Regions from separate parts of the Homo sapiens genome. Here region 1 is linked to region 2. Evidence: fine-mapped expression QTL. A gene starts in region 2. The other region holds a variant in brackets. All regions are shown on one strand. Distances are between the middles of the regions.

Region 1 (4,387 bases), 20 kb after region 2:
AATTGGTTGTGTTAGATCTTATAGTGCTCTATAAGAGAGACCCCAAATTCAGATTTTTAGGTGACCTTTCTTGATTTTTACAACACTGTATAGGCCCAACAAAGCACCACCTATTTTCTGTTCTAGGAGAGGAGCAGGTCTTAGCACAGCTGCAGGGCTTCAGGAAAGTGGGTGCGCCCTGAGCCCAGGGAGCTTGAGAGAAGTGCCTGAATGCCTGGGGGCCTGGGGGCTTGACAGCTGAGAAGCCCAGGTGGGCGAGCAGAACAGGCGTTGGTGTGGCTCAACAACGGCCGGCTGATGGCAGGGAAGGATGCATATTTATTTTCCACTTAGAGTTTAGGACTGCTATGATTCCCTGGTTGCAGAACCAATAAATCCGTGCCTCATATGTCACCATGGACAGAGCTGGCTTCCTGTAATTTTTGCCAGCTCTACTTTCCCCTCCAGGCAGTGGTGGAGGGCAGGCCGGTGCCCTCCTCTGGCTCCCCAACGCATGTGAACGTGCAGAGATGAGGGAGGTTACAAAGGGCTTGCACTGGGGGCCAGGGGCTTCACACACTGGGAATCGGGGGAAGGTCACTGGCAGATCCGTTCATTCAGCCCACACAATGCTTAAAAGTCTTTTTATTTAATTTAAAAACTAGGAGATTTCACTCCAAATTCCACGTGAAGTTTCTTTTTTAAAAATCAAGCTGGCTGGGCGCGATGGCTCACACCTATAATCCCAGCACTTTGGGAGGCCAAGGCAGGCGGATCATGAGGTCAAGAGTTTAAGACCAGCCTGGCCAACCTAGTGAAACCCCAACTCTACTAAAAATACAAAAATCAGCCGGGCATGGTGGTGCACACCTGTAATCCCAGCTACTCAGGAGGCTGAGGCAAGAGAATTGCTTGAACTCGGGAGGCGGAGGTTGTGGTGAGCCGAGATCATGCCACTTGCACTCCAGCCTGGGCAACAGAGCAAGACTCCATCTCCAAAAAAAAAAAAAAAAAATCGTGCTGCCCGCACTGGGTGCCTTGCTGCCTGGCCACATGAGGCTGCCGCTGAACAGCAGGTGACCATGGGGGTCAGGGTTTCCATACCCTATCAGGGCATTCCTGGACCCCAGCGCTGGCCCTGTGAGTGCCTGTACCTCTGGCCCCTGCTGTAGGCAGTGGAAGTCAGTAAGATGCATGGGATCACAGTTGGGGACACCTAAGTGTGCAAGGTGGCAGGAGGCAAGGATAGCCAGGATGTGAATGACTCTCCACGGCAGCAGGAGGGCTCATGGGGCAGGTGGATCCCCTCCCTCTGGGGGCTTTGGGCCCATGGCACACTCCTTGCGCTACTGTAATTGTTTCACTGTCAGTATGCTTCCAAATCCCTAAATGGTGCAACCCCGAATAGGACATGGCCAAGACAAAAAGAGATAGTGCCACATCATGTGCCCTGTGTGAGGTGTGGCCCTCTGGCCCGGCACCCAGGGAGGGAGTCGCTGATCGCTGCCTGTCTGCTCTCTCTCCCCAACAGTCCTGTGGGGTTGACTTTGAGGTCAAAGCATTCGCCACAGACAGCACCGATGCCGAAGAGGACAAAATCCCCAAGAAGTAAGAGTATGGTTGCGGAATAGGTGAGGGGTCTGCGGTGGGGGTGGAGAGAAGAGACGACCTCCACCTTGTCTCTGTGGGACAGACCTCTTCCCATAGGGCTGGCACGGCTGGGGTACCATCTGCATGTGGGATGGAGGTCAAAGGTTGATCATTTTTGGGGAAAAAAAAGAAAACAAGAAAATGACAGGGAAGTTAGCAACCTCCAGGGCTCACGTAAGCCCCGAAAAGCTCCCGGGTTTCCCCTTTGTTGAAGTTTTGTTGTTGTTGTTTGTTTGTTTGTTTGTTTGTTTTTTGTGGTAAAATGTACACAACATGAAGTTTGCCATTTTAACCACTTTTTTTTCTTTTTTTCTTTTATTTTTTGAAATGGAGCCTCGCTCTGTCCCCCAGGCTGGAGTGCAATGTGACCTCGGCTCACTGCAACCTCCGCCTCCCAGGTTCAAGCGATTCTCCTGCCTCAATCTCCCGAGTAGCTGGGATTACAGGCGTGCGCCACCACGCCTGGCTAATTTTTTTTTTTTTGTATTTTTAGTAGAGATGGGTTTCACCATGTTGGCCAGGCTGGTCTTGAACTCCTGACCTCAAGTGATCCGCCCGCCTTGGCCTCCCAAAGTGCTGGGATTACAGGCGTGAGCCACTGTGCCCGGCCCATTTTAACCACTTTTAAATGTACCATTCAGTGGCTTAAGTACATTCCGAATGTTGTGTAGCCTTCACCGCTGTCTATACCCAAAACTTTCCCATTGCCTGAGCAGGAACTCTACAACCATTGAGCCTACCGCTCCATCCTTCCCATTCTCCCACCCCCTGTGCTGTTTTTTTTTTACCTAAACAAGATTTCCGCCTGGCCCTTCGCACTGTCTCCT[T/C]GTGCCCCATGTACACATCTCTGGAGGCGCAGGATAGTGAGCTGCAGTAATGGAGCTCGCATGTATATGGCAGCTATTCCATGAGGCCCTTGACGCCCTCACACCTTAGCCTTGCTGACAGGAGGCAGAGCTGGGAATCCACGGAGCCTAAGGGGCTAAGCTTGGCCCTCGGGATGTTGCCTGGCCCCACAGCTTCCCCCACAGGGAAGGGACCAGGACCCAGACCCCCAGGCTCTTCCACCGTCAGGGCTGCCTCAGGCTCTGACCAGTGTCGTTGCCCTCTTCCCGTCCACCCTGTCTCCATGGGGAGCATTCCTGGAGAATCTCCATGTGACAGTGGGGAGAGAACAGAAGCCTCCCTAAAGCGGCCTGGGTGCCAATCCCTGGCTTGTCTGTGGCTGTTTCCCACAGGAGCTCCGTGCGATTACTGATCCGCAAAGTACAGCATGCCCCACTTGAGATGGGTCCCCAGCCCCGAGCTGAGGCGGCCTGGCAGTTCTTCATGTCTGACAAGCCCCTGCACCTTGCGGTCTCTCTCAACAAAGAGGTAACCACCTACCATCGCTACTACCCGCAGGGCAGCAGGCCTAGGGGCAGGCCCCACACCCCTCTCTTCACCAGCCCCAGCCCTTAACTACATGGGTGCCTTGCAAGGAAGCTTGTTTCTAGGATAAAGCACCAACATGCGTAAGTGACTGGCCTGTTTTCACAGCCTGGAGCTGGTCAGCATGGTCCTTAGAGGAGGACGGAACTGGCTTGCGTTCCACCCACTGGCTGTCCCGAGGGACTGGGGAAGGAAGGGGCGCTGCTTTTCACATACCTGCCCCCCAGCTGTCCTTGTCCTGTCCACCTCCATGGGCCTTGTTCACTCATGGAGCATCAATAGCTGTGGTATCCCAAATTCTTCACTTCCTGGGAAATTTAAGTTTTGCAGAAACCATGTGGGATGGCAGTGTCACCTGTGATGTCATCTCTTAGGGGTGTCATGGTGGGAAAAGGTGAGAGCTGCTGGCCAAGGCTGGCTCTGGTTCCTCTGGTCAGCAGTCAGCCATTTGTGCACTGTGTGTATACACGTGTGTGGGTGTGCCAGGGGCTGTGTTACACGGGCTCTGCTGGGTGGGATGCCAGCACTTGGCTTTCCCAGTGGTTTCCTTTCACTTCACTCATCCTGCCCCCATAACCTCCTGACCCCTGGCCTCCTCCGATGTGATGATCGGAACTCTGTTCCCCTCCCCAGCTTCCCACAGATGGGTGGAATGTGTTTCAGGCCCTTCCTTAGAAGAAATGTATTGCTATCACTTCATCTTCCTTAAATTCTGCCGCTTTTATTCCAGTGAAAGGGATTGAGATGAATCTAGAAAGCAGTAAGATTAAAGACACCGCCACATCTGTTCTCTTCTTCTGACCTATCTGCTGACTTTTCTAGATCTATTTCCATGGGGAGCCCATCCCTGTGACCGTGACTGTCACCAATAACACAGAGAAGACCGTGAAGAAGATTAAAGCATTCGGTAGGACCTTCTTCTCAGAAGTAGAGGGCATAGTCTTCTAGAATTTCTGATCCTGTTTCCTGAGAGGTCACTTCTCTGGTCTGATAAGGCCCTTCTGGGTCCTTGGAACTGGCTACTTGTCTCTGCTGTCATAGGCAGCAGGACTGCGGAGGGAGAAAGGCCTTACAAGTTATCTCATTCAACTTCCTGCCCACTTACGGCTGGTTTTTGTCTTGGAACAAAATTCCTGGCAAGTGATCTCTTTCCATGGTTATGCCTTCCTGGAGGGCCCCACAGTGCTCATTGTGGTTGACAGATGCAGCACATTGTTGTGGGTGAGGCCTAATTTGTGGACTCATGCTGTGGGCTCTGTGATCCCAGCTGGCATCCACAGCAGGGGCTCCTTGTCTACCTTCCCAGGCTTTGTGTGGCTTGAAGGAG
Region 2 (4,387 bases):
ATGTGGCTGGCTGTGGGAAGACTGTTCCAGGAGAGGAAATAGCAAGTGGAAAGGCCTAGACGGAGGTTTAAAGAAAAGCAGGCCAGTGGTGGTGGCTCACGTCTGTAACCCCAACACTTTAGAAGGTTGAGGTGAGAGGATCAGTTGAGGTTGGGAGTTCGAGACCAGCCTGAGCAACATAGCAAGACCCCATCTCTACAAAAAGGTTAAAGAATTAGCTGGGTGTGGTGGCATGTGCCTGTAGTCCTAGCTACTCGGGAGGCTTAAGTGGGAGGAGCGCTTGAGCCCAGGAGTTCAAAGCTGCAGTGAGCTATGATTGCACCACTGCACTCCAGCCTGGGTGACAGAGCGAGACCCTGTCTCTAAAAGAAAAGAAAACAGGCTCAGTACTCTGGAGTGAAGTGGGCAAGGGAGAGGGTGGTGAGAAATAAAGTCAGAGGTAAAGGGGGGCCAGAGCATGCCGGACCTGGCAAGCATTGTCCAGACTTAAATGGGAAGCCATTGGAATGTTTGGGTGGATGCTGATACCCCAAACGTCAGAACAGGCTTTCTGCATATACTTGTTTCATTCCCAAGTCAGTCCCCCATGTAAGTGTGTTAGTGGTCGCAGAGTCCCCTCCATCCATTCCCTGAGTGTTCTTGGGAGCAGGCATTGTTCTGGGCACTGTGAAGACAAAAGTGAAGGAAACAAAATGGCCTAGGCCCTGCCCTCATGGAGCCTGGACTCCAGTGAGGGAAGAGAGACTGTAGAATAATTCCCAAGCAAGAGTGAAATGTGGCCAGGCACGGTAGCTCATGCCTATAATCCCAGCACTTCAGGAGGCCAGGAGTTTGACACCAACCTGGCCAACATGACGAAACCCCATCTCTATTAAAAATACAAAAATTAGCTGGGCATGCTGGTGCACAACTGTAATCCCAGCTACTCGGGAGGCTGAGACAGGAGAATCGCTTGCACCCAGGAGGTGGAGGCTGCAGTGAGCCGAGATCGCGCCACTGCACTCCAGCCCAGGCAACAGAGTGAGACTCTATCTCGAAAGCAAAAAAAAAAAAGAGTGAAATGCAAGCGTGCCTCCAATCTGGTCCTGGAGGTTGGGGATAGCTCCCCTGAGGAAGTGACTCCTGGTCAAAAATCTGAAAGGCCAAGAAGAGTCAACAAAGTGGAGAGAGGAGAGGCTTGTTCCAGGCAGAAATAATAGTGGGAAGGAGGAAGCGTGGCAGACGGCGTGGAAGGAAAGGCAGGCAGAGGTTCCAGAGGCTGCAAGCTTTTTGCCTGCATTCTAAGAGCAATGGGTGATTGTAAGCGAGGGATGACAGGGCTCAGAAGGTCTCTCTGCCTCTGTGTGGAAAAGGGCTTGGAGGGTAGAAATAAATGTGGTCGGCTGGGTGCGGTGACTCATTCCTGGAATCCCAGCACTTTGGGAGGCCGAGGCAGGTGGATCACCTGAGGTCAGGAGTTCGAGACCAGCCTGGCCAACATAGTAAAACCCTGTCTCTACTAAAAATACAAAATTAGCTCAGTGTGGTGGTAGGCGCCTGTAGTCCCAGCTACTCTGGAGGCTGAGGCAAGAGAATCACTTGAACCTGGGAGGCAGAAGTTTCAGCAAGCTGAGACTGCACCACTGCACTTCAGCCTGGGAGGCAGAAGTTTCAGCAAGCTGAGACTGCACCACTGCACTTCAGCCTGGGAGACAGAGCAAGACTCCATCTCAAAACAAAAAACAAAACAAAAAAAAGAAAAGAAATAGATGTAGTCAGACAGTGGGGAATCACTCCGGTCCTGAGAAGCAAAGGCGGTGCTGGGGATGGGAGGATGCAGACAGGTTCCAGAGACACTGAGGGGATCAACAGGACTCCTGAAGCCATCAATCAGTAGGACCGGGTGGAGGAGAGGGACAGATCCAGCTTGGCTTGCATAACACCAGGTTCATCTTGAGGTTGACATTTCTCCTTGACCTTTTTGTTTAGTCCCCACCCGCAAGGTCGCATTAGCTGCCTGCTGAGTTTAATCAAATCTCTTCCTGTCCTGGCAATGCCCGGGAATGAAGAGATAATCAGTCTATTTCCAGAATCCAAAGAGGTTTAGAAGAAAAAGTAGCTTTCATTTAGCTGTTGGCCCTCCCACCAACCTTCCCCAAGTCAGCTGGGTGACTCATACATCTGTGAGACCCTCCGTATGGAGACCGGGGCGGGGGGTGTTGCTTAATGCTTAGAACTGCTGAAACTACCAGTTCACTGTCTCAGCACTAATCCAACTCTGCTCCTTAAGTGGGATTTGGCTTTTAGACATTGAGACCTGGATGCTGGGCATCCTCGCTAGATCCCCTACAAATTCCCCACATACGTAGGCCAGGAGCCTCAGCGGTGCCCCTTCAGGCTCATCTGGCAAGACGGTACCAGCTTGCTCAGAACAGGGGCTGGCTATTCATCATCTCAGAGCATAGAGACCCTCTCCTTGCCACCCGGCCCTTCCCACCTGGTTGGTGACAAATCACAAGGTATGTGACCACCACAGGCCAAAACCTTATCAGAAACCTGGGGCAGGTGTGGGGAAGAGCAAGGATGGGCGTTTTCCTGCAGACAGTATGTCCCGCCTTCACCTTTTCTGTGTGGTTTCCATAAGACTTGGTTGCTATTTAAGGAGACTTGGAGTGAGCGGGTGCAATGGCTCATGCCTATAGTCCCAGTGACTCAGGAGGCTGAGGCTGGAGGATCACTTGAAGCCAGGAATTCGAGACCAACTTGAGCAATACAGTCAGACCCAGTCTCTACAAAAAAACAAAAATAAAAATAAATTAGCTAGGCATGGTGTCACACACCTGTAGTCCTGGCTACTCAGCTGGCTGAGGCAGGAGGATCACGAGCCCAGGAGTTCGAGGCTGCGGTGAGCTATGATTGTGGCACTGCCCTCCAGCCTGGGCAACAGAACGAGCTCCTATATCTTAAAAAAAAAAAAAACCTCAGAGTATGCTTAATTCTAGACCGCTAAGATGGCCTCTTAATTGTAAAACAGAGTGGCTATCTCTTAGTAGGAATTGCCAAATAGAACTTTTGGGATTTTAATATATTCTTTTTTTTTAAAAAAAGTGATAGGATCTTGCTATGTTGCCCAGGCCAGTCTCCAACTCCTGGTTTCAAATGATCCTCTCGCTTCAGCCTCCCAGAATGTTGAGATGACAGGTGTGAGCCACAGTGCCCGGCCATTAATATCTTCTTGAAAACAGTCTTTGCGAAGTGGTTATGTTGTGGTTTTCAGGAACTTTTCTGATTTATTCGCCATTAGACACAGTCACGATAGAACTTTAAATTCAACCTGGCTAAGTGTGATAACACCAAAGGTTAGTCAGAAAGTAAAACCTCATTGGAATCTAGCTAGACTCCCTGGCAAGGTGTACTGAGAAATGTTTGAAGCTTACCAAGAAAAATAAAATATTGAAAACACCCCAAAGCATGCTGCAGTAAAATACAAACTAAGCAAAGACTCACCGATGAAACTCGGATGTTGAAGCCGGTACAAGGGCATGGTGAGGACGCACAGGATCTCGTGAGTAGGTTTCATAACTAGGATGTTCTTGACTTGATATTTAGGATTGTCTTACCTTTCTCCAACCCTCTAACACCTGACCAACACCCCAAGGTGGTAGAAGTTGCCAGGGACAGATAACATGGCAGCCAGCGGGAAGACCAGCAAGTCCGAACCGAACCATGTTATCTTCAAGAAGATCTCCCGGGACAAATCGGTGAGTGGTGCACAAGTGAGTGATTTGATAGAAATTATTGTTTAAAAAAAATGGAGCTTTTTCAAGTACAGTGTAGTCATGATCAACATCAAAACTCTTTGAGGGCCAGGGCGCGGTGGCTCATGCCTGTAATCCCAGCACTTTGGGAGGCGGAGGCGGGATAACTTGAGGCCAGGAGTTCGAGACCAGCCTGGCCAACATGGCAAAACCCATCTCTACTAAAAATACAAAAATTAGCTGGGTATGGTGGCAGGCACCTGTAATCCCAGACTTGGGAGGCTGAGGCACAAGAATCACTTGAACCCAGGAGGTACAGGTTGCAGTGAGCCCAGATGGTGCCACTGCACTCTAGCCTGGGTAGCAGAGGGAGACTCTGTCTCAAATAAAAAACAAACAAACACTGTGAGGGCCAGGGAAGCTTTGTGTCTATTTTTGTCTCTGTCTAAGATGGATGATCACTGAGCTATAAATGAGTGAATGAACTGCAGAAATAGAGCTTCTCTTCAGTCTCATCAAGACTTTAGTCCTGTGTCCCTCAGTTTTCTCCGAATCCCTCAATCCCCACACTGTCACCCCCACCTCTGCATCTTTTCCTAGCCAGCCTTGAACCCTTGACTTACTATTTAAACACAGTTTTGTCAGTACCT

Direction of the effects. Alleles are on the strand shown, and positions count from the first base shown. SD is a standard deviation of normalised expression in the study named.
For the expression in testis of the gene that starts at base 2,292 in region 2, allele C in region 1 goes with a lower level than allele T (moderate effect, 0.63 SD a copy in GTEx).

What was found. PIP is the estimated chance that this variant, and not a neighbour inherited with it, causes the effect.
Region 1: its variant is the best candidate, but not a certain one, in a credible set for the expression of SAG in testis (GTEx, PIP 0.71).

Annotation. Positions count from the first base shown.
Region 1 is chr2:233,325,611-233,329,997 of GRCh38, forward strand. SAG (S-antigen visual arrestin) reads left to right here. Exons shown (of 16, transcript NM_000541.5): 7 at 1,511-1,587; 8 at 2,868-3,003; 9 at 3,883-3,967. Among named protein-coding and RNA genes, the nearest start is that of SAG, 20 kb to the left of the region's middle. RefSeq lists enhancers at 731-1,708, 3,006-3,837, 3,868-4,387. The variant T/C (reference allele first, on the strand shown) is at 2,457.
Region 2 is chr2:233,305,525-233,309,911 of GRCh38, forward strand. It overlaps SAG (S-antigen visual arrestin), which reads left to right and starts at 2,292. Exons shown (of 16, transcript NM_000541.5): 1 at 2,292-2,498; 2 at 3,638-3,740. The coding sequence starts at 3,666.